Linked DNA regions of Homo sapiens: all the other regions are linked to region 1. Evidence: fine-mapped expression QTL. A gene starts in region 1. Each other region holds a variant in brackets. All regions are shown on one strand. Distances are from middle to middle.

Region 1 (5,085 bases):
AAAGGCACTCCCACCCCAATCCACAAGTGAGAGCATGATAAGTGTTTTCAGTGTCACAGACCAGAAGGGCCTTTCTTTTGAAAGCCTCAGTTATTCATACCCATACACCTTTACTGAGAACCTTCTACAAGCTGACACTCATCTAGGTGGTTGGTTGGGACATTGGGGTCATCTCTTTCCCCACCACACAGCCCACCTGGCATCTCCATGGGTTCTCCTCCTTCCATGGGTTCTCCTCCCTTCCTTCCCTTCCCTCCCTCCCTCCCTCCCTTCCTTCCCTTCCCCTTCCTTCCTTCTTTCCTTCCTTCCTTCCTTCCTTTCTTTCTTTTTCTTTCTTTCTTTCTTTCTTTCTTTCTTTCTTTCTTTCTTTCTTTCTTTCTTTCTTTCTTTCTTTTTCTTTCTTTCTCCTCTCCTCTCTTCCCCTCCCCTCCCCTCCCCTTCCCTCTCCTGCCCTCCCCTCCCCTCCTCTCCTCTCCGATGTAGGTCTCTCTATATTGCCCAGGCTTGTCTCAACCTCCTGGCCTCAAGAAGTCCTCCTGCCTCAGCCTCCCAGGTAGCTGGGATTACAGGTGTGAGCTACCACACCTGGCTTCCGTCCCCCTTTACTGTATCTTTCTTTTTTTTTCAAGACGGAGTCTCACTCTGTCGCCCAGCTGGAGTGCAGTGGTATGATCTCAGCTCACTGCAACCTCCGTCTCCTGGGTTCAAGTGATTCTCCTGCCTCAGCCTCCCAAGTAGCTGGGATTGCAGGTGCCCGCCACCACCCCCGACTAATTTTTGTATTTTTGGTTGAGACTGGGTTTCATCACATTGGCCAGGCTGGTCTCGAACTCCCAACCTCAAGTCATCTGCCCGCCTCAGCCTCCCAAACTGTTAGGATTATAGGCGTGAGCCACCACACCTGGCCTCTCTTTACGGCATGACCTTGATGCTTATCAGGTTTCTCCTCTAGGAGGTGGAGTGGGTTGGATATGGGCTTACAACAGCTTCTGTGATGATGAAGCAGAGAAGGAAAAGACGAACTGCTTTTGTTGAGAATTTATGCTGTCCCACCAGACTGTGAATAGCATAACTACAGCAACAACAATGAATATTTGCAGAGCATTTATTTTGTACATGGTATTTCATTTAATCCTCACAATCACCCTTTAAGCTTATGATTATTGTTTTCCCCCATTTTCCATATGCCAAAAAAAAAAAAAAGCACAGAGAGGTTAAGTCCCACATTTAGGTGGCCCAGCTGGGACTGAAATGCAGGCAGCTAGCGTTCCCAGCACTATTCTTGTATTGATCTGATTTGTCTTTGTACCCGCCAGCCTTTATCCTAGAAGAGAATAAAGGTGTCAGAGCAGAGGGGTGTGAGACCTCAACTAGCCCAGCCCTCTCAGAATTACAGATGAGAGGGAAAAACAAAGAGAGATCAAGTGAGCTACCCAAGGTTGCACAGCATGATAGCCGCTAAGCAAGGGCTGGAACCTAGACCCTGATGCCCTGTTGCCACTGCAGAATACGTGTTCAAAAGTCTTCCCGTCCCGTGAATGAAAAAGATAATGAGTGGGCCGGCGCGGTGGCTCACGCCTGTAATCCCAGCACTTTGGGAGGCTGAGGCGGGCGAATCACGAGGTCAGGAGATCGAGACAATTCTGGCTAACGCGGTGAAACCCCGTCTCTACTAAAAAATACAAAAAAAAAAAATTATCCGGGCGTGGTGGCGGGAGCTTGTAGTCCCAGCTACTCGGGAGGCTGAGGCAGGAGAATGGCGTGAACCTGGGAGGCGGAGCTTGCAGTGAGCCGAGATCACACCACTGCACTCCAGCCTGGGCGAGTGAGTGGATAATGGATAGACTTCGACAGAGTCTGTCTATGTGGCTCACCCTTGGGTCTTCGTGGGGTGGTTGGGTCATGAGAACCAGGGGGTCAGGGGAAGAGGGAGATGACTAGAGTGCGCCAGCCTGATACGGTTGTGTGGAAGGGGGTGCTGTGCTGCTGGTTATGGGGAAATCAACCCATGAAAGCATAACCAGCCTTTGACCCCCTCCTCTGGCACCTCATGACCTTGTGTTCACAGGGCTTCCTCTATGGCATTCTTATCATATTGTTAACAGCCCTAACTGGTGAAAGGGAGTCACTTTCAGAGAGCATTGGGCAGTGGCTTCTTTCCCATCAGCTATTGTACTGCAAGTGCCAGATAATGTCGATGACATAAATGTGCCTAGGCCCCTGCCTGGGAGGGAGAGGCTGTTTACTACTGCCCCTTGTTTTGCACACTGGTCTTTGGGGGTTGCAAACACTGGCACCTGTCCTCGGGGTCAAAACCAGTGTCTATAGCAGAGTGGGCAGGACTTTGATGAAACTCTGATACCTGCAGGATTGTGGCCCACCGCAAACCGGAAATGACCCAGCTCACTCCCTTGGCCCTCCCTGGTGGGGCTGTGGCCAATTGTAGATCACTCCTTTGCTGTAGAAGGAGTCTGGGTAGCAGCTGGGTACCAGCCACTAGGCTGGTGCCAGGACCTGGTCCTTGGGCGGGGCAGAGGGCTATCTTTGTGGGAGTGGAGTGGCTTTTCTTGCTTCTGGCTGATGGGACTAAGGAGACTGGGAAAGGCGACATGCCTCAGGGAGGGCGAGGGGAGGTGGCAAAGGAGCTGCCAAGGCCCAATGCATCAGGGCAGCTGGAGCAAGCTGGAACCAGGGACCGGCAGCCTTGTGTGTTTGAGATAGTAATTTGCAGATGGTTCCTGGTAGCGACAGGGTCTCTGAGGCGGAGCCTGGGTCTTCGCGTAGGATCTGCCAGCCTGGGTTCCCCGGCAGGTCAGAGAAGCTTTGGGGCGGGGCCAAGGTTGGCCCCTGCTTGGGAGGAGCCGGGATGCCTCTCTCACAGTGATGCAGAGAGGAATTTGCTGACAGTCCCTTGCCAGGTGGGGCTGGCTTCGCCCAGCCGGCGAGGAGGAGGACCCGCTGGCAGTCTCCTCCCAGGTGGGGAGCGTGGAGCCTGTCACTGCAGCCTGGCGGCCTGAGCGCCGAGCCTGGGGCTGGGGCCGCGGTGCTGAGGACGCAAATGTGGTGAGCACGCGATGCGGGTGCGGTGACCGGGGCTGGTCGGGCCGGGAAGAAGGGGCGCCGGATCCAGGTCCCGCACGGGGAGGGGGCGGGGAAGGATTGCTTGTTTCTGTGCTTTCTGAGACCTTGCATTGGGAGGGATGGGGGTAGGGGAGACTGCGCCACAGTCCCTTGCCACGCTGGCTGTCTCTAGCTTGTACCCAGGAAAGGGTGGCCTGAGCCGCCCACCCGGGAGGGCGTGGCTTTAGTAGACCGGTCTTCACTGGGTTGGGGGAACGGAGGTGGGTAGGAGGTTTGCTTGGGGGGTCCCCGGCCTCCTGCCTGACAGCCAGGTGGGAGTTACCGCTCGGGGCTACCCTCTCCCCCACCCAGGGATTCCCCGGGGCTCTGCCGCCCACTCTCTGGGCTGGGACGGGAGGGGGCAGTCTGCTCCGCCGTTATGGGTTATGACAACGTCACTGCTGCGCTGCTGCCTGGCGGGCTGGGCTCCTGGGCCCCCAGGGGAACAATGCCACCCTTTCCCCATGTGCTTCCAAAGAAAGGCTCTTGCCTCCCTACTCGCCCTGGCCTTGAGAGAGGAACGTTGTGTTTGGATGAAGGCCCTGGGGAAACTGAGGCCCAGGGGTGCTGTGGCTTGACCAAGGTCACTGAGCAGGCCCTACAGAGCTGGCCTCCCAGGCACTGCCTTCACCGAATGCCCTCTGGAGGGGCAGGGGCCCTTCTTCCTCTCTAGACCCCAGGACCTCCCCCCACCCCAGCACCCCATTTCCTCATCCCTGAGAATGCAGGGAGTTGCAACTTCCGCATGGGGCTCCAGGGTATCATGGGTGTAAGCAGCAATTAGATTGTCTGGGGACAGGAGAAAATTGCTCATGAAAAACACCTAAGTGAGCAGAGGGGGTGTGAGCGTGTGCTGTTCTTGTGGGTTCAAGGAAAGAATGAGAGTTGGCTTTGAGGAGAGGAAGGCCCGTGCTGATGGGAATGAGGAGATGAACTTTCTCCTTCAACAGCCTGCAGCGCTCCAGGAAGATGTGTTTTCCCTCAAGAAAGGGTCCATCTCTTAGCACCACCCTCTGTTATCACCTTATCCTTGTTCTCTCTCCGGCCCCTGTCCCTGGGAGAAATGGGCTACATTCCGTCTATTGCCCTTAGAAGTGAACTTTCCCCTTAGAAGTGAATTCACCTTGTTCTTCTCCCTGGGACAGATGACCTTCCCTGGAGGGAAACTGAGGCAAGGAGAGAGCGACATTTTAGAGCCAGAGCCAGATGAGGAAACTGAGGCACAGAGGGTGGAGTGAGTTCTCCAGGTATCTTACCTACATGCAGGTCTTCTGACTCCCCAGCCACCAAAGGGCAGACTGGAGGGGCCTCTTCCTGTCTTCTCTTCGCACCCCACAGTCCCAGCGCTGAGAAGCTGAGGCTGCAAGGGCCTCCTGATGGGTGTGGAGGAGGTCGGTGACAGGGAACAGCACCAGCATTTTCTCCTCCTTTAAGATATGTTTTCTAGTTTCTTGGGAAGGAAGCAGCTTGAAGACGGGAAGTGAAGTCTCTTGGTTACCTTCCCATCATGCCCCCACAGGGATACACAATTTCTGTGGGCCTATCGGAGCCAAAAACAGGCATCCCTCCTGCCCGAGTGCCAGCAGCTGTGAGCATAGCCAGGGAGTGGGGATCCACAGGTAGAGGGACTTCATTTATCTCCCTGACAGCATCTCCGGATCGGGGGTTTGGGCCAGCACCGGTTTACTCCAAGTGAAAGGAGTTGCCATGTGCCTGGCTCATGAATTGCTCCTTTTCAGACACCCTCTGAGCACAGAACCCCTGACGCTGGCCCCTGCTGGCTTCACAGGAGCCTTGGGTTGCATGATGACCACCAGGAGCTGCTGGGGTGACCTGTGGGAAGGGATGGGGTTCCCAGTAAACCAGATGAGAACTAGCTGCTTGTGGGGTGACAATATAGCACCAGAGAGGAGAGGGCCCACCATACTGGAGGGAAACCACATGGTATGTGTCCCTCCCAGCTAG
Region 2 (5,085 bases), 100 kb after region 1:
CAGTGGCTCATGCCTGTAACCCCAGCACTTTGGGAGGCCGAGGCGGGTGGATCACCTGAGGTCAGGAGTTCAAGACCAGCCTGGCCAACATGGTAAAACCCCGTCTTTACTAAAAAATACAAAAAATTAGCTGAGCGTAGCGGTGGGTGCCTGTAATCCCAGCCACTTGGGAGGCTGAGGCAGGAGAACCACTTGAACCCAAGAGGCGGAGGTTGCAGTGAGCTGAGATCATGCCATTGCACTCCAACCTAGGCAAAAAGACCAAGACTCAGTCTCAAAATAAATAAATAAATAAATAAATAAATAAATAAATAAATAAATAATAAGGCTTACTTATTTGTTCCCTTCAGGGGCCAATTTCAAACAGAAAAGCAGAAACTCTCATGCGTGCCTAGACTTGGAAGAGGTTGCTTTAGCTTAGTGCTTCTCCACCTTTTTTTTCCACTACTGCCCCTCTACCAGGAGCCTTTGTAGACAAGTTTCTCCCTAAACACACTCCATGACATTTTAATACTTTATACTGTACATCTTACTTGTGCTTTATACATAAAAAATTAGATATTTTGCCCTCCAAGAACACATTTCATCTATTGGGAGAGAAATCAACCCTAATGCATGCTTTGGTTTGAAGGACCCAGACTCAGCCTCCCTAATCCAGCAGCCAAGAACATCTGCTAACCTTTCTCTACAGGGCAAACCAGGTCTTTGCTAAAACAGGAAGGAGTAGGGTCAGGATCCAGGATATTAACCACTAGGACTGGGTTCTGCCTTATCACTGGGACAGACTGAAAAGGCATTTCCCCAGAAGGGGAGTCAGCTGCCATGACTTAGGCCGGAGCTTCTCCACCTCAGCACTCCCAACATTTCGGGCTGGATGAGTCTTTGCTGTGAGGACTGTCCCGTGCATTGCAGAGTGTTTAGCATTCCTGGCCTCCACTCACTGAATGCCCGTAGCACTCCTACCCTCAACCCCTCAGTTTCCCAGCCAAAAATTTCTCCACAGATGGCCAAAAGTCCCGAGAGGCAAAATCACCCTCAATTAAGAACCACTGGTATAGCCTAAGAAAGACCCAGAAAGTTCAGTGGACTGCCACCCAGTGCCTTATGAATCCAGTTCAGCAAGGGGCTGGGAATAGTTTACAGGCCTCTACATGGTGGAGAGGTTGTGCCTCCAAGGTCAAAAGTGCATCCAGGGCATCAGACACAAAGGGGACAGCTGCACGGCCCCAGCGTCACTGCGGCCCTTTGAAGGACCTGGGAATGAGGAATGAATCATTCTGGACCCCTGCGGCAGTTGCTGAGGGAAACCAATTCCTTCAAATTGTACAGTTTGGTCCCAAACCCAAGGACTCCAGCCAGAACTGTACCAAGCCAAGGGAATCTTATTCACTACATTAAACTCTGAGAAATCCTGCTCTGTTGCTAAACTAAAAGAGGAAAGAAAAATCTGCAACCATCACAGGCATATGTACTTGTAAGTTGTTCTCTATGGCTGAAATCTGGATGGGCTCATTCCTGTAACTGCACCAGGCAAGGCAGCCTTCTCCTCCAGGTCCCGGGCCACTACTCAGCCAGCGGAAGAGCCCTGCCCCTGCAGTTTCTATAGTCTGGACTCACTGTTTTCATCTCTCTCCCCTCCCTGACTCTTTGTTGGCTGAATAAGAAAGCTCTCATTACTTCCCTTTTCTTCTCTGACTCTACTTCTTAGATAATGAAAGACAAAATGAAACTCGTAGATTTAGTCTTAAAATTTGACCCAGGCCCAGAATGATATTCTGACTGACAGGCACATGTTCAAAAGAGCTATGTCATCAGGCCACAGTGACAGCTACAAGCAGAGAGTCAGAAAGGAAGTGACCCAGAGATGCTTAATGTCAACTTATCACCTCCCAATGCGCAAAAATGACAAAATTTGAATTTTTAAAATTTAATCTGGTGAAATAAGTCAACTATATGTACTGAGTACTGCTTACATAATCACTTCCAGGGAAGTCCACTTGACAATGGCTTACCAGGGGAAAAATAACAAGTGCTACACCTCCCTGCAATGCTGTGGGTAGAGTGATAATCACATATCTGGCTTGAGATAGTGATTCTTAAACATTATTCCTGCAGAACACAGGTTTTCCATAAGCCAGAATAAGGGGGTCTTCCACTAAACAGCAGGACTACAGCAGGGGAAAATTTAAGCTAGTGAGTAGAATTTTCTCAATTTAAAGATTTCTTCTCTGAATTTTTCTTAAACCTTTGATGCTACAACTGCTGTCAGCTACTAATGATAGAGAGTGCAAACAATGTCTTAGAAAACCTTAAAAAGAATCAATCATGCCCTGCCTAAGCAGTTTCTGTCCAGGAATATGAGTGGGCTCGTGGCTGGGATTTCATGCTGCATATAAACAACACACTCAAATTAGCTATCCATCCTAACTGATCCTGATTTCATATGATGGAATGAACTATCAGTATCTCATGATCTTCAACCAAGAGCACTATGATTTTCAGGGGCTCTGCCACTTGGGCAGATTCACAAATCACTTAGAGGTGAAGGAGTGTAGTGGTAACTAGCAGTAACTCTAAAAGCCTACCAGCCTGGCTCTGAGGGCTGGATCTACCTCTTACACTTAGCTGTGTGACCCTGGGCAAGTTCCCTGACCTCTTTGTATGTCAGTTCCCTCTCCTGTAACTGGGAATGATGGCAACCTCCATATGATT[G/A]TAATAAGTATCAGATGAGTATAGTGCTTAGCGTAGTGCCTGGCACATGAGCTGTACAAGCAGTCACTGGTATCACCATCATCACCACCATCCTCATTCTGTGGTGAGGGAAATGCCTTTGAGGATCACAGAAAACCGTAGTAAAGATGCTTTCAAATTCCTCCACAAGGGGGAATGGATCTGTAGCATGGCATTGACTTGTGATCCAAATTCATGGCTGCCCAAAAGCTCTTAGAGACGCCATGAAATGAGAAGGGGACACATACCCGGATCATGACCATGTGGGATTCCAGCAAGATCTCAGGAAAACTGGGCTGTAGCACATCCAGGCTGATGTTTGGCACTAGGGGAAAAAAATGCAGGAGAAAAGCCTTTGTCATACATTCTTTCCTCAGTCTGTCCATGGTGTCCACATTCCCACCAGAATCCAAATGCAGCCTTGCTGACAAGTTCACAACTGTTGAGGAGACAGAAGAAAGCTTGGCCCAATTCTTGATCATTTACTTAGCTGTATGAAGAACTCATCAGGCATTCTAAGAAATGCAAAGGAAATAGACAACAAGGTTTCACCTGCTTGGTGCTCCAACAGCTCCCAGCACCATTGCTTTTCACTGTGGTACTGGCTCAAATGCTGCTCTCCTATTAGGCATAAGGGACAGCTGCACAGCCCCCGAGTCACTGTGGCCCTTTGAAGGGCCTGGGAATGAGGAATAAATCATTCTGGACGCCTGGAGCAGCTGCTGTCGGGATGGGGACCAAGTCTGTCTCCTCGCCAATATGTCCACAGGGCCCCATGTGGTTCCTGGCATACTTGATAAAGAGTTGTTGAATTAGTTGATTAGTGGGTTTGGCTAGATTAGGTGGGAAGAAGAACAAAATGAAGGCACACATAAGCTTGAGGTGGGTAGTTTAGGAAAACAGATGATGAATCCAAATACTTATTGAGTTGAAGCTGACAACGCAGTGGAAATATCAAATTGGAGCTTGGGTGTAGAGATGTGGGGCACAGATCAGGGCTGTGGCAGTCACTTTCTATAAAAGCATTGGCTGGATATGTGGGGGGGCGGGGGAGCGACTCTACACTGAGGCATAAAGGGAAAGTAGCAGCTTGCTCCAAGCCTGGAGGCTGGGGAGGTGCCCATGGTGCAGGGGAGAGAGGAGCCCAGAGGAAGACGAGACAGATGGATCTGCAGATGGCCACTGGCCACTTTAGGGAGAGGAGTTTACGGAGGGAGTGGATGAGAAGGAAAAGGAGTATGCTATGTAGGTACAGACAACTCATAGAAAGAGAGTGTTAACAAGGAACAAACAGCAGCAAGTTGAAGGGATAGCACAGTTTACAAACGCTTACTTTTCTAAGATAAGGGTTTCTTATAAATGCTTCCCTCCAGAGCCAGCCCAGAAAGTGACCTCACTCACACTTGGGATTGATATGGTCCTCCACATTCCAGATGGAGTTGAGGGTTTCTTTCAGGTATGGGGTGCAAGTAACTTCCAACTGCTCCCAGCCCCTGTGAAAAGCAGAAGTCACAGATGTCTCTCAGAAGACGTGAAATCCACCAGAGAGTGACACTGTCTTCTGCTCTTAAATCCACAGGCTCCTTCTCTTTTCCACATGGTGGCCATTATTTCTTCATGTTCCATGTTGGACAACTATCCTAGGATAGTCTAGCATACAGTATTCCCATTTTAGAAAAAGACATAGACCCAGAGAGTTATTAGCACCAGCCAGATGTGAAAATGTTGAACTATCAGAACACATAAAACACCGAAGCTCCCCCGGAGTTCTGTGCTCCATAATACACCTGATATCTACTCTCCCTCCATCTGCCACTAAGAACAAGCAGACAGCAGGTGAACACAGGAAAACAAAAGCTTCTGGCATACTCCTTGTAGAGTGAAAGGAAAATCAGGACCCTCGATTGGGACAGCAAAACCCTAGAGACTTACCACTTGGGCAGAACCTTTCCCGAGGAGCCCAGGACACAACCTGTGACCAAATGGATGAAGCGAATTCGACTTCTCAGCACTTTGATCCGGTTTCCAAATTTCCTGTTTACGACCTCAATCCGCCAGAAATCATTTGAGTCCCCTGTTCCATTCTGCCATAAAAGCCAAGAAAAAAATACAAAGAAAGTGAGGGGACTTTAGAGAAAACGTGTCAGAAAGGGAAATGGCCACCCAGATGCCACCATGTTATGAAGGTCAAAGACCAAATTAGGCTCAATGATAGAGATGGGCAAGGTTACAAGAAGGCCAAAGAAATATCCCAGGTGATTGGCATTGTCCCAAAACTCACTATTACAACCAAAAAACAGTAGTATGACTCCTGGAACCAGAAGTCCAGGAGTCCAACTCTTCACTTCATAGAAC
Region 3 (5,085 bases), 57 kb after region 1:
GACTGTGATGGGTGGGGGTATGGGCAGACTGTGGTGGGTGGGGGGTATGGGCAGACTGGTGGGGGGGTATGGGGAGACTGTGATGGTAGGGGGAGTCTAGGGAGACTGTGATGGGTGGGGGTGGGGGATACTGTAATGGGTTGGGGTCTGGGGAGACTTGGATGGTTGTGGGGGTCTGAGGAGACTGTGATGGGCTGGGGGGCCCCAGGAGACTGAGGGTAGGAGGAGGCCCAGGGGTCTCTGTGCAGTGGGCTCTGGGGAGCTCACAGGCTGACCTCACTGCTGCTGCCTCCCTCCCTGCAGGAGCAAGCTCCTGTGGCTGCATAGCCTGCTGTCCTTCTTCTACTTCATCACCAACTTCATGTTCATGGCTCATCACTGCCTGGGGTTTGCACCCAGGAATAGCCAAAAGGTAAGTAGCCTACAAAGCTGCTTCCCACTGTGGGAAGCTGGGGTCCCTCCCCACTGGGCTGACCACTTCCAACCCTCAGAGAAGCCCTCAGAGGGTCCAGGGAGACTGTGATAGATGGGAGGGGGCGGTTTCACCTGAGCAGGGGCCAAGCTTCCTCCCTTCAGTCCTAGTAACAATCACCTGGCCCCCACCTCTCACCCTTCTCCACCCTCTCACCCTCCTCCACGCTGCTCCACCCTCTCACGCTCCTCCACCCTCTCACCCTCCTCCACGCTGCTCCACCCTCTCACGCTCCTCCACCCTCTCACCCTCTCACCCTCCATCCTCTCACCCCTAATGAAACTTTCAGACTGGTTGGTAAATAGCTGCTGCCCAGGTACCTCCTATCCCTGCCCCTCTGCTGCCCCGCCCCTCCCCAGGGACTCTTGGACTTCCCACCATCTGAAAACTAAAGGATTAACAAGGCCCAGTGGACCAGCGGGGGCCTCCATGCTAAGTGGTCTGGGCCCTGCTGAGCTGCTGCTACTTAGTGTACCTGGCCCTGCCCACCCCTGCTAGGCCCGTGCCTCGCCCTTCTGCAGTCTCTCGGAGATCAGAGACCCCCGTGTATCCCCACCGTCTCAGTTTGGGTGACCCCATCCAAGCAGACCCTGAGACTTGGAATGAGTAGCGCTTGTTTATGGGAGGTGATCCCAGGAAAGGCCAGTAAGGGAGTGAGGATGCAAAGGCAACCAAAAAAAGGGAGCATGGAGGGGCAACTTACCCCTGTGGGCAAGTGGAGCTTCATGACCAGGGAACTCTGGGAGCTGGTGTAGAGCACATGCCCCAGAATTTTCCTGGAGGTGAGCAATCGTGGGTATTTTCCACCAGCTCCCTGTCCACCGTTCATTGAGGGTTGCGCTTGGGGGCTTTAACTCCTCCCCTACTTGGCCCTGCACAAAAGCTGAACATGCCCCAAGGCCGGGAAAGAGCAGTCGCAGTATTTGAAGCATGCTGCAGGTGTTGGTGTGCAGAGATGACTGACGGGGGGCCACGGGCAGGCACCAGCAGTGCCACCCATCTGGACCAGCACCCATGCTCTGCTGGGGATGGGCAAGAGTGAGGAGCATCCTTAGTTCCCGTCCTCAGCCTTTCAAAGGTTCAGTGGTGTGGAATCAGCTCCTTCCAGGCCGTCCATTCAAAAGGACTGATTCACTTGAACCCACCCCAGAGTGCAAATCCACATTCCCTGAAAAGTGAACCCAAATGCTTCAGCCTGCCAGGCATGGAGGCTTGGTCACCCTTGACCAGTCTGGTGTCTGCTACTTCAGCTTTCCTTCTTGTCACCAGAAGCCTCTTTCAAGACCCCTGATTCTTGCAGCACAATTACCAGACTGTCATCTTAAAGGTGACGACCCAGGAAGATATTTCCCATTCACAGAATAAAGTGTGAAGTTTAGGGAAGCTTCCCTACCCTCTCCCCAGAGTCTTGTTTACTTCCCAACTCCCCGGCCCAGTCTCACGTGAGGGATTTCCCTAGAGATGTGAGGCTTTACGCTGGAACAGTGGAAGCTACAGGGAGAGCAGAAATCACTGTGGGGTCGCTCTGGCAGCTCTTTCCAATCATGGAGCTCTGATCCTCCACCCCAGCCTGATGGCAGCTTTCCAGTCCTTCCTCCCTTCACCACAGCAGTCCGGAGCAGGGCACCCACAGCTGGGCACAGAGGAGAACGGAAGCACAGTTGACCAACCTCAGAGCTGCCTGGCTCAGCTGGGACGCTGTGGGCTAAGGCAGCTGGCACTTCCTTGGCCCACAGTGTCCCAGCTTGGCTCTGGCTTTCTTGGCTCTCTCAGCAAGGAGGCACTGGCATCAGCAGCCTGCTGTGAGCAGAAGGCCTGCTCTGAGCCACCAAAAGACTGAGGTGTCTGGAATTCCTATGCAAGCACAGTCTTCTTTCTCCATTTTTATTTTTCCCACCCAGGTCACAAGGACACTAATGATCACCTATGTGCCCAAGGACATTGAAGACCCAGAACTCATCATTAAGCATTTTCAGTAAGTGGGTTGGGGTAGGCCAAGGCGTGGATTGCTTCCTCCCCATAACCCCGCCTGGGTCCTCAAGTGGGTAGTGAGTTGGTGCAGGATGGTGGGACTGGGACACCCCGGGGTGGCTCTCCCTGGACTCAGCTCAGGATCAGCTTTTTAGAATGGGGAGGGCCGCTGGAGCTGGAGCAGGGTGTCTGAAGTCAGGGACTTCCTGCATGGCATGGCTGTGATATGGGTGATGGGAATTTTTCTTTCTCCTGTTGCTTCAACTACTGAGCACAGGGAACCTTGGATCACAGCTATTTAGAG[A/C]AGATCATCTGGAGACATCCTTTGTGACCCCAAGTTCCCAGCCCCAAGGACACTGTTCACTGAGCTAATTATCTCTTCGTGAACAGCTGTCTCCTGGGTTCCCCAGTGGGTGGAGCTCCGCCCTTTTGCCCTGTTCTGAGTTGTGTAGGAAGGATTTGGCAGCTCTCAGATTGCCAAGGTTCAAACCCTGAGGTTCAGCTTTAGGAGCAGAGATGGAGTATCCCATCCAGGAACACCAGGCAGCTGAGCCACCCAGCCCTCAGGGCCGACATGCTGGGCAGGGGGTAGGGGCAGCACATCCCCAACCCCACAGGCCGACTCAGCACCCATGTTTGTGGCTGCAGCGAGGCCTATCCAGGCAGTGTCGTGACAAGAGTCCACTTCTGCTACGACGTCAGGAACCTGATCGACTTGGACGATCAGAGGTGAGGCTGCAGCGGGGCCTTTTGGGGCCCGGGGTGGGGGTAAAAGGGGAGGATGGGGCTCTGCTGGCCCCTGACCTGCAGGTCCTTCTCCTGTTGCCCACCGCTGGCAGGCGCCATGCCATGCGGGGCCGGCTTTTCTATACAGCCAAGGCCAAGAAGACTGGGAAGGTGATGATCAGGATCCACCCCTGTGCCCGCCTGTGCTTCTGCAAGTGCTGGACCTGCTTCAAGGAGGTAACTGGCTTGAGCGTTGGGAGCACAGCAAGGGAGCGGTGGGGTCCTGGGGCTCTAGGCTCTGTGCCTTTGCCCGCACTGTTGGGCCCCAGGCCTCACTCAGGTCTGCTCTAGTGCTCCCCACCCAGCTCCTTCCTCCCCATCCACCATGTCCTGCCTCCCTGTTGAGATGGGAGCCTTTCTGGAGGCCACCTTCAGAACAATCCAGGGAAGCTTGCTGCTGTCTCCTTTCTGGTCTTGGATGGGAGAATGAGAGAGAAGGACCAGAGAAAACACAGCAGGCTACACGAGGCTGCCAGGCCTCAGGCTCCCAAAGAGATAGGACAGAAACATTTGAAGGCAACAGCTTGTCTTATCACCTGACCACTGTGGCTCAAAGAGGGCGTCGAGACTCAGACACCTGCTTCAGGACCATGCCGAACTTCTGCCAGCCCAGAGATTCACCCTCTCTCGTGGAAATGCGGCAAACACATTCTCTCACCTCTCTGGGGTCCACCCCAAGCCTGAAAGCCCCCGGGTACCCCTAGCTATGCCTCACTTTCCCCAGATCTAAGGGCAGGGGTGAATGGCAGTCATCGCCTCTTCTTGTTCTAGAGGTGGGACTTTGGAGGCCAGCCAGGGTCCTGGGCTCCTTGAGGTGCTTCAAGGCCACCACAATCCAGGGAGGCTTGAGTGGGGAGGAACCTCGTGACCAGGGAGGCCTTCCTGGGGCTCTGGCCCCAGCCCTGAAGGCTGCCTGCCACCCCAGGTGGATGCAGAGCAGTATTACAGCGAGCTAGAGGAGCAGCTAACGGACGAGTTCAACGCCGAGCTCAACCGCGTGCCGCTCAAGCGGCTGGACCTGATCTTTGTCACCTTCCAGGACTCCAGGATGGCCAAGCGGTGAGCACCAGGCAGGCGCCCCACCCAGCCCCAAGCATACTCCTGCTTCTCGGCACTCTCCTCCCTCTCCACCTCCAGTTTCCCCTTCTGCCTCCCCTGGGCCCTCCATGCTCGTCACAGGCAGCTGCCATCTGGCTCTCCAGTGGATGAGATGGCCATACCTGCTTCCCCCAGCTGCTGGGGCCCAGCTGCTCTCAAGGGGTGCCCAGGCCGGGGCTCCTCACTCCCTGTCCTTGCTTTAGCACAGAGGTGGTCAGAGAAGCCTTTGACCTCATGGTCCCTCTTCTGCCCTTGACAAGAATGACATCCCTTTTCCCTTTTTCTTTTTTTTTTTTTTTCTTTTTTTTTTTTTTTCTTTTTTTGAGAGAGTCTCGCTCTGTCACCCAGGCTGGAGTGCAATGGCACAATCTCAGCTCACTACGACCTCTGCCTCCCAGGTTCAAGCGATTCTCCTGCCTCAGCCTCCCAAGTAGCTGGGATTACAGGTGCCTGCCACCATGCCCGGCTAATGTTTGTATTTTTAGTAGAGACGGGGTTTCACCATGTTGGCCAGGCTGGTCTCGAACTCCTGACCTCAGGTGATCTGCCCACCTCAGTCTCCCAAAGTGCTGGGATTACAGGTGTGAGCCACTGCGCCCAGCTGACACACACATCACTCCCTCCTCACCATAAGAGAGCGTCAGGATAGAGCAGCTCTGTTTGCCCTTCTCCTGCCGCAGGCCTCCCCTAATTCATAGCTCTACAGTCCCCTCTCTTCTCTGCCCCAGCCTCTGGCAGCCCATGCGTTGACAAGGAGT
Region 4 (5,000 bases), 79 kb after region 1:
GGGAGCTGAATTCCGAACAGTGATGGTGACACTCAGCACCTTTGCCACAGCCGGGGGGAACCGGCTTCTGCCTCTGGGATGGGCTCTCATCAGGACCACCGTGCAGCCCAGCCAGGGAGGACATGAGAAGGGCCAGTGGGGGCCTCAATGAACCAGAACAAGCCAAGCTGAATGGGGTCTGTGTGCTCCAGGGCCCTCTTCAGCCCCCTCCCCCAAAGGTCTGGGTCCCTGCCACCAACCTACTGAAGGCCGGCCCCCGGCTCACCTCACCTGAGCACCTGCACCAGGCCCCAGGCACATGGCTGCCCTGAACTCAGATCACCTAGACCTTGTCCCTGCCCCACCTTTGCCCCATCCTAGCCCCAGAAGCTCCAAGCTTCACCGCAGGTGAGAAATTGTGCTCAATGGGCAGAAACTGCTATACCCCCAGGGCATGGCCCACATTTTGGCATGAGGGTGTCTTTCCAGAGAGCTTGGGTTGGCTGGAGAGAGGCTGTCTTTCCCATTCCTTGTCCAGCTAGGAATAAAGGGGAAATGGTCCTAGCCTGGCCCCTACACACCCAGGTCCCACAGGCCCCCTCCCCACTGGAATTTCACCAACCAACAAGGGGAAAGTACGCTGTTACAGCATAGCGGTCAGGCCCAGCAGGAGCTTGGCACATGATGGGGAGGTGGCCAGCTCCAGGCCCTGCCCGACCCCATCATGTGTATTTGGTGTATGGGGTGTGGGGGGTCACACCAGAAGCTGGCCTGGGGTCTCTTCTTTGCTGGACACAGCTCCCTGGCCCCTGCCCCCAGCCCCTGCAGCCCCTGCCGGACTGTGGAAGCCACATATGGGAAAAGTCCTGGCAGACAATGTGGCGGGATGACTGGGGGCTTCTCCCTCTGAACCTGGGTCCAGTGTAGCCTGGCTCTGAGAGAAGGTGGTGAGCATGTGGAGAAGGTTCCATAGTCCACTCTTAGGGGAACCAGCAAAGCCTCATGGCAGTTGGCTCCATCTGGACCTCCCATGGTCACTACAGGATGGTGGAGCAGGGGGCATCTTTTAGCCTCCCCCCGCCACCACATCCAGGCCCTCTCAGGCACCTCCTGCCTCAGCCCACACCTGCCTCACCCATTGCCCCCCTCCCCCCACCTACTGCCATCCCACTCCTCTGCCAGCCACTTCCCAGCCGCCCCACCCCACTCCATCCACCAAATCACCTCCTGACTTAATCCTTTCTGGAAGGAGCTGCCGCCCAGGAACCGGTATTGCCTAGAGCCTCCAGGAGGGGCCCTCCTCAGGCCTCCAGTGGCCCCATGCCCACCTGCCTGACCCTCCACTGCCCCTGGAAGCAAAGTGCCTATCAGCAGCGTTGCGTCCTCTGGGGCCCCCGGTCGGGGGGGAGGGGGTGTGGGCTAACCTTGGCCACCACCACAAAAGGAATGTGCCAGAATGCTGAACCTTCTTGTTAATGCTATGACCGTGCCTTGAATAAACAAGTCCTCCCAACCTCTCCTGGCCCCTGCCTCTCTGCCTGTGCATCTGGGCCAGCCTGGCCTTGCTCCGCTGTGCAGTGGAGAGAACTTTCTGGTCCTTGAGCTACCCAGGAAGCCAGCAGGGCAGCCCCGAGGAGCAGCAGAAGTCTCTGGTGAGTGCTGAGCCCCATGAGCAGGCCACTGGGCTAGGCTAGTGGCCAGACTTCAAAACACACAGATTTCAGGTGAGGCCCCAGGAAGAGCGGCAGACAGGGCTCAGGTCTGCAAGAGGATGAGGGTGGGGGACTTGGGGGATGGGGGAGGTGGAGGAGAGGTTGGGTGGAGGAGAGGTTGGCACGAGGGAAGTGTGTGGGGCAGCCAGGTGGGATAAGAAACACCCGTTAGCAAAGGCTGTTATAACTGTGGCAAGGAGACAACAGTTCCCTGCCCTGGCGGACACATCTCAGGGTCAGGAGACTGGTTCTGTCCCTTCCTCCAGCAGCTGCATGACCCAGGCTGGTCACCTCATCCAGACAGTAGGGCTGGGAGGACATGAAGCGGACTGTTCTGCTTCGTGACTGAGCAGAGCAGATTTGAGGGCAGAAGATGGGAATCTTGTGGGTGTGTTGAGTAGGGGGAGACTTCCT[C/T]CCGCAGTGCTCCCTATGGGGACAGAGGATGACAGTCTCAGGGTGGCTGCCTAAGGACTCTTTCCTGCATCATCCTCGCTGGGTCCTCTCCGCAAACTTCTACGGTCCATCAGTGGCCACTGACTCAAAGTCTACCAAGGTGTGGGCCTGGGCGTGGGATCAAGACCCGTCCACTTGTCCCCTCTCCCCCTCAAAACAATTATTTTCCAAGTCAAGTCAGCCCTTAAAATCCACAAGGGCTGCTTCGCAGGAGAGAAGCCATGAAGACTCCCTGACTGGACGGGACGGGGCTGCGCCCTGCTGCTGCCTCTCATGGTCCCCTCCCAGGGGCCGGCAGCTCCAGGGTCCCCAGATGGCAGGCCTGGGACACTCTGTGGTTCAGCAGACCTTTCGAGGGCCTTTTATCAGGCAGAGACTGAGAAAGAGACAGAAAAACAAGCCGAAGAGGGAGGGCGGTCTCCCCAAGGATGGAATGTCCTCCAGGGAGGTTAGTGTTGGTCAATCCTCTCTCCACTCAGCAGGCCAGGATGGACCGGAGGCCTGAAGGTGGATTTACCTGGGCTGGGGACGGGACTGGGGCAGGGCAAGAGGGAGCCCCAGGAGGCTGGCTCCACTGGGCTGTGCCCAAGAAAGGATTGGAGCACGTGACCGAGTGCTGCGCAGGGAGGAAGCAGCGGGGCCTGAGAGTGCCCCATGCCTCTGCCCAGAAACCAAGCCTGGGGCTGCACGGGGCCCCGCCAGGGAAGCCTGAGGCAGCTCACTTCTGTCCTGAGGAACCTCCTTGCTGGCCAGATTCCAGGTTTCTAGGTCTGCTCTGTGGAAGGCCTTGCAGAGGCGAGGAGAGCCTGGTCTATGGGGAGACAGGTTCCCAGGCTTTCTGAACAGAGGCTGCTTTCAGAACATCTGACAGTCCCTCGGCCTGGACAAGTGGCAGCCCGGCAGCTCTCAGCCTCAATTCCCAAGGTTCTCCAGCCCAGCTGCAAAGGAGAGTCACTCTCAATGTCCAGGCCCCATCCCTGAAAAACCAAAATTTCTCAGGTGGGGCCCAGTACCCTGTATTTTACAAAAGTCCCCCAGGTGATTCCAGTGTGCAGGGAGGGGTGAGTGGATAAGGAAAACAGTCCCAACCTCAGGCACTGCATGCCCTGGGTGGCCTCAGCATCTCACCATCGCCAGCTTAGAAATGACAACTCCCTAGCTCAGGCACGCTTCTGCCATCTTTATCTTCTTTTGCAATAAGTATGAGTACCATGTGGGCCCGAGGGCCACACACCAGGTGTCAGGGGCACTTCTGGCTACCTTGTCATCTTCAGCAAGGGTTCAAAGACTGTCCCTCTTCCCTCCCCTCCAAACACAGAGCCCAGTGGCTTCCATGACCGCCTGCCCATTTCCGTGCAACAGAACGTGACAAGTGCAGTAAACAAATAGGCCTACATAATGGGGTGTCAGGGAGAGACAAAGCCGGATAGGGGCAAGGGGTGCCTGTAGGTGGGGAGAGGATGCTTTGCACTAGAGAGGCCAGCACAAGCTCTGTGGAGGTGAGACATGAGAGCCAGCAAAGGGTCTGTGGGCACACATGCGGAGCCCAAAGAACCAGGCAGAGTGAGCGAGGGGAGGAGAGGGTGGGGCGAGGTCTGAGTGGGCAACAGGCTGTGCAGGCCACGCTGGGACTCCAAGTTTCACTCATCATCTGAGAAACTATGGGAGGATTCTGGGTAGGAGTATGATCCCCTTATGTGTTTGTTTTCCAGGTTTTTTTGTTGTGGTGGTGGTGGTAAAGTACACATAATCATATTCACCATCTTAACCATTTATGGGTTTTTTGTTTGTTTGTTTTGTTGTTGTTGTTGAGACAGAGTCTTGCTCTGTCACCCAGGCTGGAGTGCAATGGCGTGATCTGGGTGCAGTGCAACCTCCGCCTCCCAGGTTCAAGCAATTCTCCTTCTTCAGCCTCCCAAGTAGCTGGGATTACAGGCATATGCCATCATCATTTTTGTATTTTTTAGTAGAGATGGGGTTTCACCATATTGGCCAGGCTGGTCTCGAACTCCTGACCTCAAGCAATCCGCCCACCTTGGCCTCCCAAAGTGCTAGGATTATAGGCGTGAGCCACCGCGCCCGGCCACCATCTTAACCATTTGTAACTGTCCTGTTCAGTGGCATGAAATACATTCGTAATGTGCAACCATTACCACCAGCCATCCTCCACAACTCTTTATCTTGCAAAACTGAGACTGTATACCCATAATCAATAATTCCTCATTCCCTCCTCCCCTTAGCCCCTGGCCACCACCCATGTAACTCTTATGTGCTGAAATGGTCACTGTCACCAGGGTAGGACAAGTAGAAGCAGAAAGCCCAGCTGGGGCCAGGTGTGGTGGTGCACACCTGTAATCCCAGCATTTTGGGAGGCTGAGGTGAGAGGATTACTTGGGGCCAGGGGCTTGAGACCAGCCTGGGCAACAAAGCAAGACCCTATCTCCACAAAAATTTTAAAAATTAGCTGGGCATGGTGGCATGCACCTGGAGTCCCAACTACTCGGGAGACTGAGGCAGGAGGATTCCTTGAACCCAGGATTTCAAGGCTGCAGTGAGCAATGATCATGCCACCACACTTCAGCCTGGGCAACAGAGTGAGATCCTGTCTAAAAAAAAAAAAAAAAAAAGCCCAGTTGGGACTGTGTCAGAGGCATTCAGGAGAGAGAATATGGTAGCTTGCACCAGGATAGGGAGTGAATAAAGAAGCAGTTAAACTTGGAACAGAGGTTGAGGATTCATGGATGATTAGATGTGGGGTCTGAGGGAAAGCAGGAACGCAAGGATGACTCCCAGATCTTCAGCATGAACAACTCAGCACACTCTGGTTTGAGGTGGAGAAAGCTGGGAAGAAAAAGG
Region 5 (5,085 bases), 26 kb after region 1:
CCTCACATCTACCCAATAAGTAGGTGCTATTAACATCTCCATTTTACAGACAAGGAAACTGAGGCATAGGGAGGTTAAGAAGCTTGCCCAAAGACATGGGGCTAGTAAGTAGCAGAGGCAGAACTTGGGCCCAGAGAGTCTAGTACTAGAAATCCACATTTGCTGCATACATGATGCCTGCCTCCCAAGATGCTCAGAGGCACAGGACTTGGGGAGCTGGGCCTGGCCTGAGCTCTTCCCTAAGGAAGCAAAAATGGAGCTGAGATTAACCAGGGGGAGAATGAATCAAGTAATGGGAGAGAGAACCTTCCAGGTGGTGGGACTGGCATATGCAAAGGCCCTGTGGCAGGAGGGAAGGTGGCATGCTCCAGGAACTGAGGGAACAACCTAGGAGGCTGGAGATGGAAGTGAGGGGGAAGTTTGACATGATGAAGCCAGAACACTAGGCAGGGCCCCACACCCAGGCCTTGCTGGCCAAGTTAAGGAGAGCGAAGAAAGCCCTTCTAGCTGATTCCATCACAGCCTGGTCCAGGAGGCCTCCCCAGGCACTGCAGATTGGGTTCGGTTCATCTGTGAGCCCTTCTCACACTGCGTTATCACTGCCTTTCAGCCAAGGCCTTTCTCATTCACCTAGAATGAGCTTGAGGAGGGGAGGAACACATCTCATCCTCTTTAGCAACCCCTATCCAGTAGAGAACTCAGGAAAGAATAAGTGAGAACAGTAGGATGGAAGGGAGGGTGAGATCAGCAAGACCAGGGGGTGTACCCAGAAGGCTCCCTGAAGAAAGCAGAGTTGAACTGGGCCTTGCCAATGGAGCATTCCCGTTGGGGGAGGATCAAGGTCCTCCACAGAGGGGAGGAATGGAGGGGGCAGAGACAACCAAGGCCTTTGATGGGCAAGGGGCCTTCCATCGGCTGGAGCTGAGATTCCTCGTGGGGAGCTGGGGGAGGTGAGACTGGAGGGGCTCCTGGGGCCAAGAGGGCCTCCCCTGGTCCCAGCCTCTGCCCAGGAGCAGGCCAGGAGCAGAGAGCTCAGATGTCAAAAGGAGCAGGGAGCTGTGCAGAAGCTCGGGCCTTGGCTTTAGATCTCCACCCCTGCTGTTCAGCTGCTAGCTGTATGACCCTGGGCAGGCTACACACCCACTCTGGGCCTCAGCATCCTCATTTGTAAATGGGGACAGTTGCCACCTCTTCTCTGGCAGGACTGTTGGGGGCCAGGTGAGATGACTTTGTAAACATACTTTGTCACCTGGAGGAGAGTGCACATAGGCCCTCCGTCAGGCTCAGAGGTAATCCAGAGGCCAGGCCCATTCAGGACCCCGCCCCCTACCTCCTGGAGGCTACCATTTCTCTTTTGTTCTCTTCCCTATAGGAGTCTAGGTTTAGACCACCCCAAAAAATGACTAGAGGGGCCTCAGTAGCTACCATCTTCCACTGATCCATTGAGGGGGTGGGGAGGTGGGAGGGGCAGGGCAGGGGGCTGGGGAGGCTGCCCCTGCCTGCCCTAGTGAGAGCTGTGCCAGGGAGGCCTCCAAGTCCTCTTCCTGATCTCTGCCCCTGGGACTTGATGCTGTAGTCAGCACAGTACCACTGCTGTCAGGAGGAGCCACTGACCTGGGGTGGAGCAGGGAGGGAGGCTTGCCTCTGGCTTTCAGGCAGACGCCCAGGGACCTGGTGGCCACTTTGGCTTCGATGATGCACCACCTTGGCTTCTTGATCTGCCTGCCCATGGCCCAGCCAGGCCCTGACAGGGGAGAGAGAGGAGATGGCATTGGATTCAGGCTTTGATTCTTCTTTCTGAGTAGGCAGCCTGCACAGGAACCACTGGGCTGCATGTCACTGTGAGAGCTCAGTCCCTCCACCCTCTCCTCCCCATCAACAAGTCTGAGTGGGAGCTGATCAGAATGAGGGCATTTGAGGAAGGGAAGAGGGATTTGATGCAGGAGGAAAGCTTGATTACATGGATATCTGTCAATCTCAAGCCTTCCTTTTAATATATGATCTTTTTCTAATTAGAAGCAACAATACATGTTCATATTAAATAGTTTTTCAAACTCAGAAAAAAATGTTAAGGACTGTTAAAAGAATGTGATATAATTTTAGTTTTTTTCTTTTATTTTTTTTTAGAATCCAGATCATTTCATTTAACAGCATTGTATCCTGCTGTTTTTATTTCCTATTTTACCTTTTTAACACAGGCATGAAGTCACCTGTCCTCCTCCCCGTGTCTCCCTGAGTCACTGCCCAGCTCCCAGGGGCCTGGGTGACTGTGACAGCCCCACAGCTGCCTCTGCCTTCTGTCTCCAGCACCCCCTGGGCACCATCATGGCTGCTCACTTACTCAGGGGCATAGGCAGAAAGCCATGGGTTGGGGTCCAGGGTCTGGAGGACAAGGAAAAGAAACTTCCTGGCAAGGAGAGGCATCTCTGTGGGGGTCCCAGAGGTGAGATGGATGGGGTGGGGAAGCCAACACACTCAGCTTCCAGCCTGAGTCCAAGTGGCCACCTTCTCCCCTGATGGCGTCCCAACTCCATCTGCCACCCACAGAGGTGTTAAGAGGATAAGTTTCTTAACCTCTCTGGGCCTGAAATTCCTCATTCATAAGATGGGATAAAAATAGAAGCTGCCTGGTCCTTCTCTTTAGCTGAGAGTCCCTTAGATGTAGTACAGATGTGGGAGGCCATCCTCCTGTACCC[C/G]AGAAATACAGTCCTCCTGGAATTGGGCAAAGCTGCTCTGTTCCTTCAAAGGCTTGTGCCTTCGGAGGCTGCGTGATGTAGTGGAGGCAGACACTTAGATTCTAATCCTGCCTTTGTCTCTCTCCAGCTGTGTAACTTTAGGCCAGTTACTTAACCTCTCTGAGCCTCAGTTTCTGTACGTGTAAGATGGGGATACTGACTCTTACTTCTTAGGCTGCTACCTCTCATGTTGCTTGTGAGGAATAAACGATGTTCAGTGGGATAGCCATAAGAAGGCCTGGCCCATCACAAATGCCCATGTCCTTTCCTGCCCCTTTCTTCTCCTGAGGCCCCCTCAGGGGCTACACCCATAGGAGCCTGGAGTGTGGTTCCAGTATTCTCTATCAGCCTTTCCTTTTTTCAGTGTACTTCTGTCTTGAGCCTAGCAGCTTCATTCCTGCTTGTTGGAATCAGCGTTCTCTGCCTCGAGGGTGGCACATAGCAAAGTGATCAGGAGGGGGCTGTGGAACCAGCCCCCCAGCTCAGGCCCTAACTTCACGGTACTAACTCCCTGATCTGGGCAAGTCTTTTAACCTCTCTGGGCCTGAAATTCCTCATTCATAAGATGGGATAATAATAGAACCTGCCTGGTCTTTGTACAGGAAACAAAAAACACTCTAGGAATCTTAAGCAAAACCAGGACTGGGACATGATGCTGTAGTCAGCTTGATTCATACAGGGAATCGCAGGGTCTCGAAATCACTGGAAGAATTAGAAGCTGGGTCTTCAGAACAGAGCAGAACTGTCCCTCCAGACAAATTACTCCTCACCCAGTCAGGAGGGCCATTACTGGAGCCACAGAGTTCACGTCCTTTCACCTGCTATCTAGGGATGAGAAAACTGCTGCAGCTTTTGCCACAATTGCCTCTCACACCACCCCCTCCCTGGGAGCCAGAGACTGGGCATTGAACTTCCTGCAGAGAATCCCTTCCTGTCCTCGGCATGGCTTGTCAGCAGAACACGGCCTGAGCACCAGGGAGATCGCCTCCTCCTCCCTCTCCTCCCTTCAGCCTTGTAAATCTATCTCCAGCATGTCTAATTGAAGAGCTCTAATCTGTATCCAGAACCCCAGCTGCAAGGGAGTGTTGGAAATGTACCTTTTAACTTTCCAGCTTCTGCAATATAGGAAGGCACAGAGGTGGGAATGGATGCTGAGGGTATCAACCGTGTCCCATATGCAACCTGATAGGTTTAACCCAGTCGACACCTGAAGAGACTTGGCACAGGGCCTGGCATATAGAACTCACTCAATAAGTGTTAGCTGTTATTCTTATTCTTGGGCTGGGGCAGCAGCGAGAATTGCCTGGCCCTGCCCACGAGCCCTGGCAGAGAGCAGCAGAAGCAGAAATGCCTTTGCCCAGCATGGTGCTGTCCATGGTGCTGAGAGCCCAGCTGGACCCAGCCAGGGGCAGCGGGATCATTGCTCTGCTTGCATCGTGGGCCCAATGGAAGGTGGAACTGCAATCCTCTCACCCCATGCTGAGGCTTCAGGAGTGACTGCAGCGGAGGGACGTTTGGGGACCTCTCGGGGAAGGCTGGCTTCGATCCTATGAAGAGGACAGCAAAAGCAACAACTTAGTTTGTGGCACAGTTTACAGAAAGAGTCTCCATGCACTATGCCCTTTAACTAACACTCATAATCACCCTGGTATAGGCAGGACAGATATGATCTTTAAGAAAAAACTGAATAGCAAGAGGTTAACTAGCAGCTGATAAACAATAGAGCCAGATTCACACCCAGTCTCCTTACCTGCAGCTGTATGCTCCCTCCACTCCCTGCAGCGACTGCTGGAGGGAAACTTGGTAGCCAATGTGCGCTATGTGGGGGCAAAAATTTGGGATTCATGTACTCTGTGCACTGTGCAAATGTGTACAAACCACCTACATTTTATTCTTTCCTACCCTTGAGTGTGTCTCTGGGTAAAGGGCCTTCTGTCTCTCATTGAGGCCTACTACGTGATGGTCTTTGGGAGAACCATGAAAAGTATAAGAGAAAGATATGGTCCCTACTATCAAAGAGCCCATGGATTTGTTGGTAAGCTGGCTGCTCACGTGCATGGGAAAATGAGAGGATGGTCCCAGGCAGTGGTTGCAAGGCCAGCTGTGTAAAGAGGGTGGGAACAAGGTTCAGACAGGGCTGGTAATCTGAAAGAGGGTTCAGAGGAGTACAATATAAGCTGGACTCAGGGGCTTTAAATGCTGATGAGACCAAGGCTCACCCAAGTCCAGGAGGAAGTGGCTCAAGCTGTGTAGGGGTGGGGCAAGCAACTCTGAATAAGGGGGCTAGTGGGGCAGAACAGAGGGTACCATGAGGAAGTAGCCAGGCCAGTGGCCTCTAGGGTAATGGGAG
Region 6 (5,085 bases), 47 kb after region 1:
TGCTTCTGTGAACTCCACACCAGGAAAAAGAAACCCTTCCTTTGTGCTATCTGCTTGATTTCTGTGAACATCATTCAACATATCATGTGTTCGCCCTTCTGCCCAAGCAAACATCGGGCAGAAGGGCAGGCCTCGCTCGGCCTCAGTGCCTGGAGAGCAGAGGGGCAGCCCTTGCCCACCTCACCTTGTGGGTTTCTTGAATGCCAGACCCCACTTTGCAAGCAAGCAGCCCCCAAGTCACCTGTTTTCTCCTGCAAGCTGACCTCAAGTTACGTGTTTTCTCCTGATTCCCCAACACCAGCCAGACGCTTCAGCAGAGCAGACACTTACCGGAACTCTATGTTCCCACTGCGTAGGCATACACACATGCACACTCATACATACACGCACACACACGTACACGTGTGCACACAGCTCTGCCTCCACCTCAGACCCCACACACTCATGGGCTCTCCCTCAGTGTGCTCCACCTGTCCTGTCCTGCCCATCCTTTAAACCCCTCCACCCCACCCCTACCCAAAGACTCCTATCACAGAGGCCCCTCTGTCAGGGACCCAGCATCTGGGAAAGCAGGAAGGCAGGGCATTGCACCGTGCATCCAGCAGCTCTTGAGAGCAGTGTCATAGAAGACAGCTTAATGCGTTTACTGAGCAGCAATAAGTCAAGTAGCGTCCCCGTGCACAAACCCATGCGGTCTGGTTGGAGAAACAAAGGTGAACAAGACTCCCTTCGTAGCATTCAGAATGGGAGGGTTATAATTGCTGTGCAGACGGCATGTGGGGAAGAGAGAAATTAATTCCAACTGGAAAAGTATAGTTTTGAGCTGGGCATTGGAGGACAGGAAGAGTTTCGACAGGCGCGATGTGGGATGTGGAGGGCACATCAGAAGTAAAGGACCGTGTGAGCCAGTTTGTTGCAGAGATGAGTAGGGTGTGCACAGACATGGTAAATCTGGTGTGACTAGAAGCAAGGTTTCATGGTAAGTGTGGCGGGGGAGGGTAAAAGATTGGGCTGGAAGGATCAGTTGGGATTTTTTTTTTTTTTTTTTTGAGACAGAATATCTCTCTGTCACCAGGGTGATGTGCAGTGGCACAATCTCAGCTCACTGCAACCTCCGCCTCCTGGGTTCAAGCAATTCTCCTGCCTCAGCCTCCCGAGTAGCTGGGATTAGAGGCACGTGCCACCATGTCCAGCTAATTTTTGTATTTTTAGTAGAGACGGGGTTTCACCATGTTGGCCAGGCTGGCCTCAAACTCCTGACCTGAGGTGATCCACCTGCCTCAGTCTCTTAAAGTGCTGGGATTACAGGCATGAGCCACCGCACTGGGCCTCAGCTGGGACCTTGGCTGGCATACTGAGAATCTTGGGCTTTCATCTAGAGACAGTAGAGAGCCAATTAGTATTTTTAAGCTGGAAACTCAGAACAATATATGTGTGTAGGCAGAAGTATGGAGAGTGAATGGCATTAGAGAAAGTCCAAAGTCAAGGTGAGCAGTTAAGGAGGCTATTCCAATGGTCGAGGTGGGAGGTGCTAGTGACCTGAACCGGGGCAGTGACTAGAGAAACAATGGGAGGGGAAGATGGGAGGGAGATCATAAGGCTACAGTCAGTAGGTTGTGGCCTAGTTAAGAAAGAGGGAGAAATTGAGGTCTGGTTTCTGGGGAGGGTAGTAATGCCATTAGGTGGGAGAGGAAACACAAAATGATGAGATGTAGTCAGGGCAAGTATGCAAGCTGACAAAGGAGCTGTTGAAAAAACAAGATTGAAGCCTAGGAGAAAGGTCAGAGTTAGAGATTTCAACTTGGGAGATGGTGCATGGAGGCTGTAGTTGAAGTCATGGGAGCAGATGGGTCATCCAAGGATGTAAGACCAGAAGCGGCCCAAGGGAGTGCCTCATCGAGGCGGGAGGAAGAGGCATCCTCTGGGCTGGACTCAGTGAAGCCAGGCCAGGACAAGGCTCCCCTCTAGGGTGGGGCGACCCAGAAACCTCTAGTGCTACAGAGGTGGAGTAGAATGGGGGTTGAGGAAAGGACATTGACTTTGGTGAGTTGG[G/T]TCTCTGTTGGGAGGGCAGGCCGAGGATAGGATGTCCAAGACACAGAGGCAGAGAAGGAAGGTCACCTTTTTCCAGAGGTGCATGGAAGGAGGGAAGTGAAGCTACTGGAAGGAGGAGGGAAAACAGGTCAGGGAACAGATCAGAGAGTGGATCCTTGAGGAGCTGTTTTATTACAGAGGAACCAACAAGCACTTGAGCCTGGTTGTAGTTTACAGGGAAGAGGTGTGGGTGGACGCAGGTGCATGCAGAGAGAGGAGGATGCCGAAGATGAGAGAGCAGAACAATGGATCCAGCACGTCTTCAGAAAGAGGTGGAAGGAAGGGAAGCAATGAGAGCAGAGACAGAGAATTAATTGTGAGTAGGAAGAAGGGCGATTGGCTGGAAGGTCAGGGTGGGGCACTTACAAGAAAGATGGAGAAAGGAAACAGGCCTAGTGGTGGAGGCAGGAATTCCTGGCCCAGGAAGAGAATTCTAGTGCTCTCAGTGCCATCCAGTCCTGTCCAGCCCTCTGCTCTCTCCACCTGATTGGAGGCTCCTGGACCTCACCCCGCCTCAGGCAGTGCAAGAGGACCTTCCCCCGCTCTCCAGAAGTTCTCATCCATTCCACTTCTGGCATTTCATTCTCAAGTCCAGGGAGGGAAACGTTTAGCCGCTCAAAGTTAAAAAATCAAGAGCTCTAAATAATTCCTCAAATGAGAACATTGAAAACCTTGAAGGTGTGCCTTTTGTAGTATTGTTTAAAAATAAATCTTTTTTTTTTTTTTAAGACGGAGTCTCACTCTGTCGCCCAGGCTGGAGGGCAGTGGTACGATCTCAGCTCACTGCAACCTCCGCCTCCCACGTTCAAACAATTTTCCTGCCTCAGCCTCCCAAGTAGCTGGGATTACAGGCACGTGCCACCATGCCTGGCTAATTTTTATATTTTTAGTAGAGACAGGGCTTCACCACGTTGGCCAGGCTGGTCTTGAACTCCTGATCTCAAGTGATCTGCCCATCTTGGCCCCCCAAAGTGCTGGGATTACAGGCATAAGCCACTGCACCCGGCCTTAAAAATAAATCTGAATCCCAGACTGGATGCTAGTTTTGCATACAACCTACAATCCTGACAAGGGGGCAGGGGTGGGTAAACCATGGTGTGTCCACCAGTGGAGTGGGGAGGCCTGCATGGTGCTGAGCATGAACCAGTGCTCCATCAACAGAGGCCACTGTCACCATTACGTAAAACCATCGGAAAATGCTTGAGATTAAATGCCAAGCAAAAGAGCAGTGCATCAAATGCTTTTTATAACTATAATCACCAAGTAAAATGAACACAACAAGAAAATAAAGGAGGTTGGGCATGGTGGCTCACACCTGTAATCCCAGCACTTTGGGAGGCCAAAGCGGGCAGATCATTTGAGATCAGGAGTTTGAGACCAACCTGGCCAACATGGTGAAACTCCGTCTCTACTAAAAATACAAAAATTTGGCTGAGTACACACCTGTAATCCCAGCTATTTGGGAGGCTGAGGCAGGAGAATCACTTGAATCTGGGAGACAGAGGTTGCAGTGAGCCAAGATCATGTCACGCACTCCAGCCGGAGCTATAGAGTGAGACTCTGTCTCAAAACAAACAAACAAACAAAAATTAAGTCCAAATGCTTATTATTATCATTATTATTATTTTGAGACAGGGTCTTGCTCTGTTCCCCAGGTCACCCAGGCTGGAGTGCAGTGGCATGATATTGGCTCACTGTAGCCTCAACCTCCCAGGCTCAAGCGATCCTCCTACCTCAGCCTCCAGAGTAGCTGGGACTACAGGCACATGCTACCACACCCAGCTAATATATATATATATATATAGTAGAGATGGGGTTTCACCATGTTGCCCAGGCTGGTCTCGAACTGCTGGGCTCAAGCAATCCACCTGTCTCTGCCTCCCAAAGTACCGGGATTACAGGCGCAATCCACCATGCCCAGCCACAAATGCTTTTTAATCATTGTCTTAGGTTCAATGAGATTGTAGATGAATTATTTACTTCTTTTTCATATTTTCCAAAGTTTCTATGAGCACTTGTTGCTTTTAAATTGTTTAAATTGAAGTATAGCATGCACATGGAAAAGTGCACACCAAAAAATGTACAGCTCGGCCCGGCATGGTGGCTCACGCCTGTAATCCAAGCACTTTGGGAGGCCGAGGCAGGCGGATCCCCTGAGCTCAAGAGATCAAGATCATCCTGGTCAACATGGTGAAACCCCGTCTCTACTAAAAAATACAAAAAATTAGCTGGGCGTGGTGGCGCACACCTATAGTCCCAGCTGCTCGGGAGGCTGAGGCAGGAGAATCACTTGAACCCGGGAGGAGGAGGTTGCAGTGAGCCAAGATCGTGCCACTGCCCTCCAGCCTGGGCAACAGAGCAAGACTCTGTCTCAAAAAAAAAAAAAATGTACAGCTCAGTCATCACAAAGCTAAGGCTGTGCCACCATCATCCTGATCCACAACTAGAACATCGCCAATACCCAGCAGCTCTCTTCCTGTCCCCCAACCTTCATCCCCATCCCATTCTAACTCTATAGCTCAGTATTGCCTATAGCTGAACTTTATGTTTGAAACCACACAGTATGTGTTGTTTGTGCCTGGTAACTTTTACTCAGCATTGTGTTTGTGAGGTTCAGCTATGGGTCATTCATTTTTATTGCTGTGTAACAGGGGTCCCCAACCTCCAGGCCACAGATCGATACCTGTTAGGAACCTGGCCCCGCAGCAGGAGGTGAGCGAGCATTACACCTGAGCTCTGCCTCCTGTCAGATCAGCGGCGGCATGAGCTTCTCATAGGAGCACAAATCCTATTGTGAACTGCACATATGAGGGATCTAGGCTGCCTGCTCCTTATGAGACTCTAACTAATGCCTGATGATCTGAGGTAGAACAGTTTCATCCCAAAATTATCTGCCCCCCCACCACCCCACACCCAGGTCCATGGAAAAAATTGTCTTCCACAAAACTGGTCCCTGGTGCCAAAAAGGTTAGGGACCACTGCTGTCTAGTATTT

Alleles and levels. Positions count from the first base shown, and alleles are read on the strand shown. Sizes are in standard deviations (SD) of each study's normalised expression. Not every link is listed here.
With allele T in place of G in region 6, the expression in left ventricle of the gene that starts at base 2,964 in region 1 is higher (small effect, 0.36 SD a copy in GTEx).

The links. PIP is the estimated chance that this variant, and not a neighbour inherited with it, causes the effect.
Region 2: its variant is the best candidate, but not a certain one, in a credible set for the expression of TMEM63C in whole blood (INTERVAL, PIP 0.61).
Region 3: its variant is the best candidate, but not a certain one, in a credible set for the expression of TMEM63C in whole blood (TOPMed, PIP 0.71).
Region 4: its variant is the best candidate, but not a certain one, in a credible set for the expression of TMEM63C in whole blood (INTERVAL, PIP 0.72).
Region 5: its variant is the best candidate, but not a certain one, in a credible set for the expression of TMEM63C in whole blood (TOPMed, PIP 0.85).
Region 6: its variant is the best candidate, but not a certain one, in a credible set for the expression of TMEM63C in left ventricle (GTEx, PIP 0.87).

What each region holds. Positions count from the first base shown.
Region 1 is chr14:77,178,835-77,183,919 of GRCh38, forward strand. It overlaps TMEM63C (transmembrane protein 63C), which reads left to right and starts at 2,964. Exons shown (of 24, transcript NM_020431.4): 1 at 2,964-3,060. RefSeq lists an enhancer at 3,285-3,414.
Region 2 is chr14:77,280,819-77,285,903 of GRCh38, forward strand. POMT2 (protein O-mannosyltransferase 2) reads right to left here. Exons shown (of 21, transcript NM_013382.7): 13 at 4,663-4,814; 14 at 4,132-4,223; 15 at 2,979-3,055. Among named protein-coding and RNA genes, the nearest start is that of NGB, 12 kb to the left of the region's middle. The variant G/A (reference allele first, on the strand shown) is at 2,713.
Region 3 is chr14:77,236,321-77,241,405 of GRCh38, forward strand. TMEM63C (transmembrane protein 63C) reads left to right here. Exons shown (of 24, transcript NM_020431.4): 9 at 304-412; 10 at 2,374-2,447; 11 at 3,092-3,172; 12 at 3,283-3,406; 13 at 4,155-4,288. Among named protein-coding and RNA genes, the nearest start is that of MIR1260A, 27 kb to the right of the region's middle. The variant A/C (reference allele first, on the strand shown) is at 2,748.
Region 4 is chr14:77,258,000-77,262,999 of GRCh38, forward strand. It overlaps TMEM63C (transmembrane protein 63C), which reads left to right. Exons shown (of 24, transcript NM_020431.4): 24 at 1-1,496. It overlaps LOC124903351 (a long non-coding RNA gene), which reads left to right and starts at 1,820. Exons shown (of 2, transcript XR_007064276.1): 1 at 1,820-3,143. The variant C/T (reference allele first, on the strand shown) is at 2,106.
Region 5 is chr14:77,204,776-77,209,860 of GRCh38, forward strand. All of the region lies in intron 1 of TMEM63C (transmembrane protein 63C), which reads left to right. Among named protein-coding and RNA genes, the nearest start is that of TMEM63C, 26 kb to the left of the region's middle. The variant C/G (reference allele first, on the strand shown) is at 2,697.
Region 6 is chr14:77,225,738-77,230,822 of GRCh38, forward strand. The region is part of intron 6 of TMEM63C (transmembrane protein 63C); the gene reads left to right. Among named protein-coding and RNA genes, the nearest start is that of MIR1260A, 38 kb to the right of the region's middle. The variant G/T (reference allele first, on the strand shown) is at 2,053.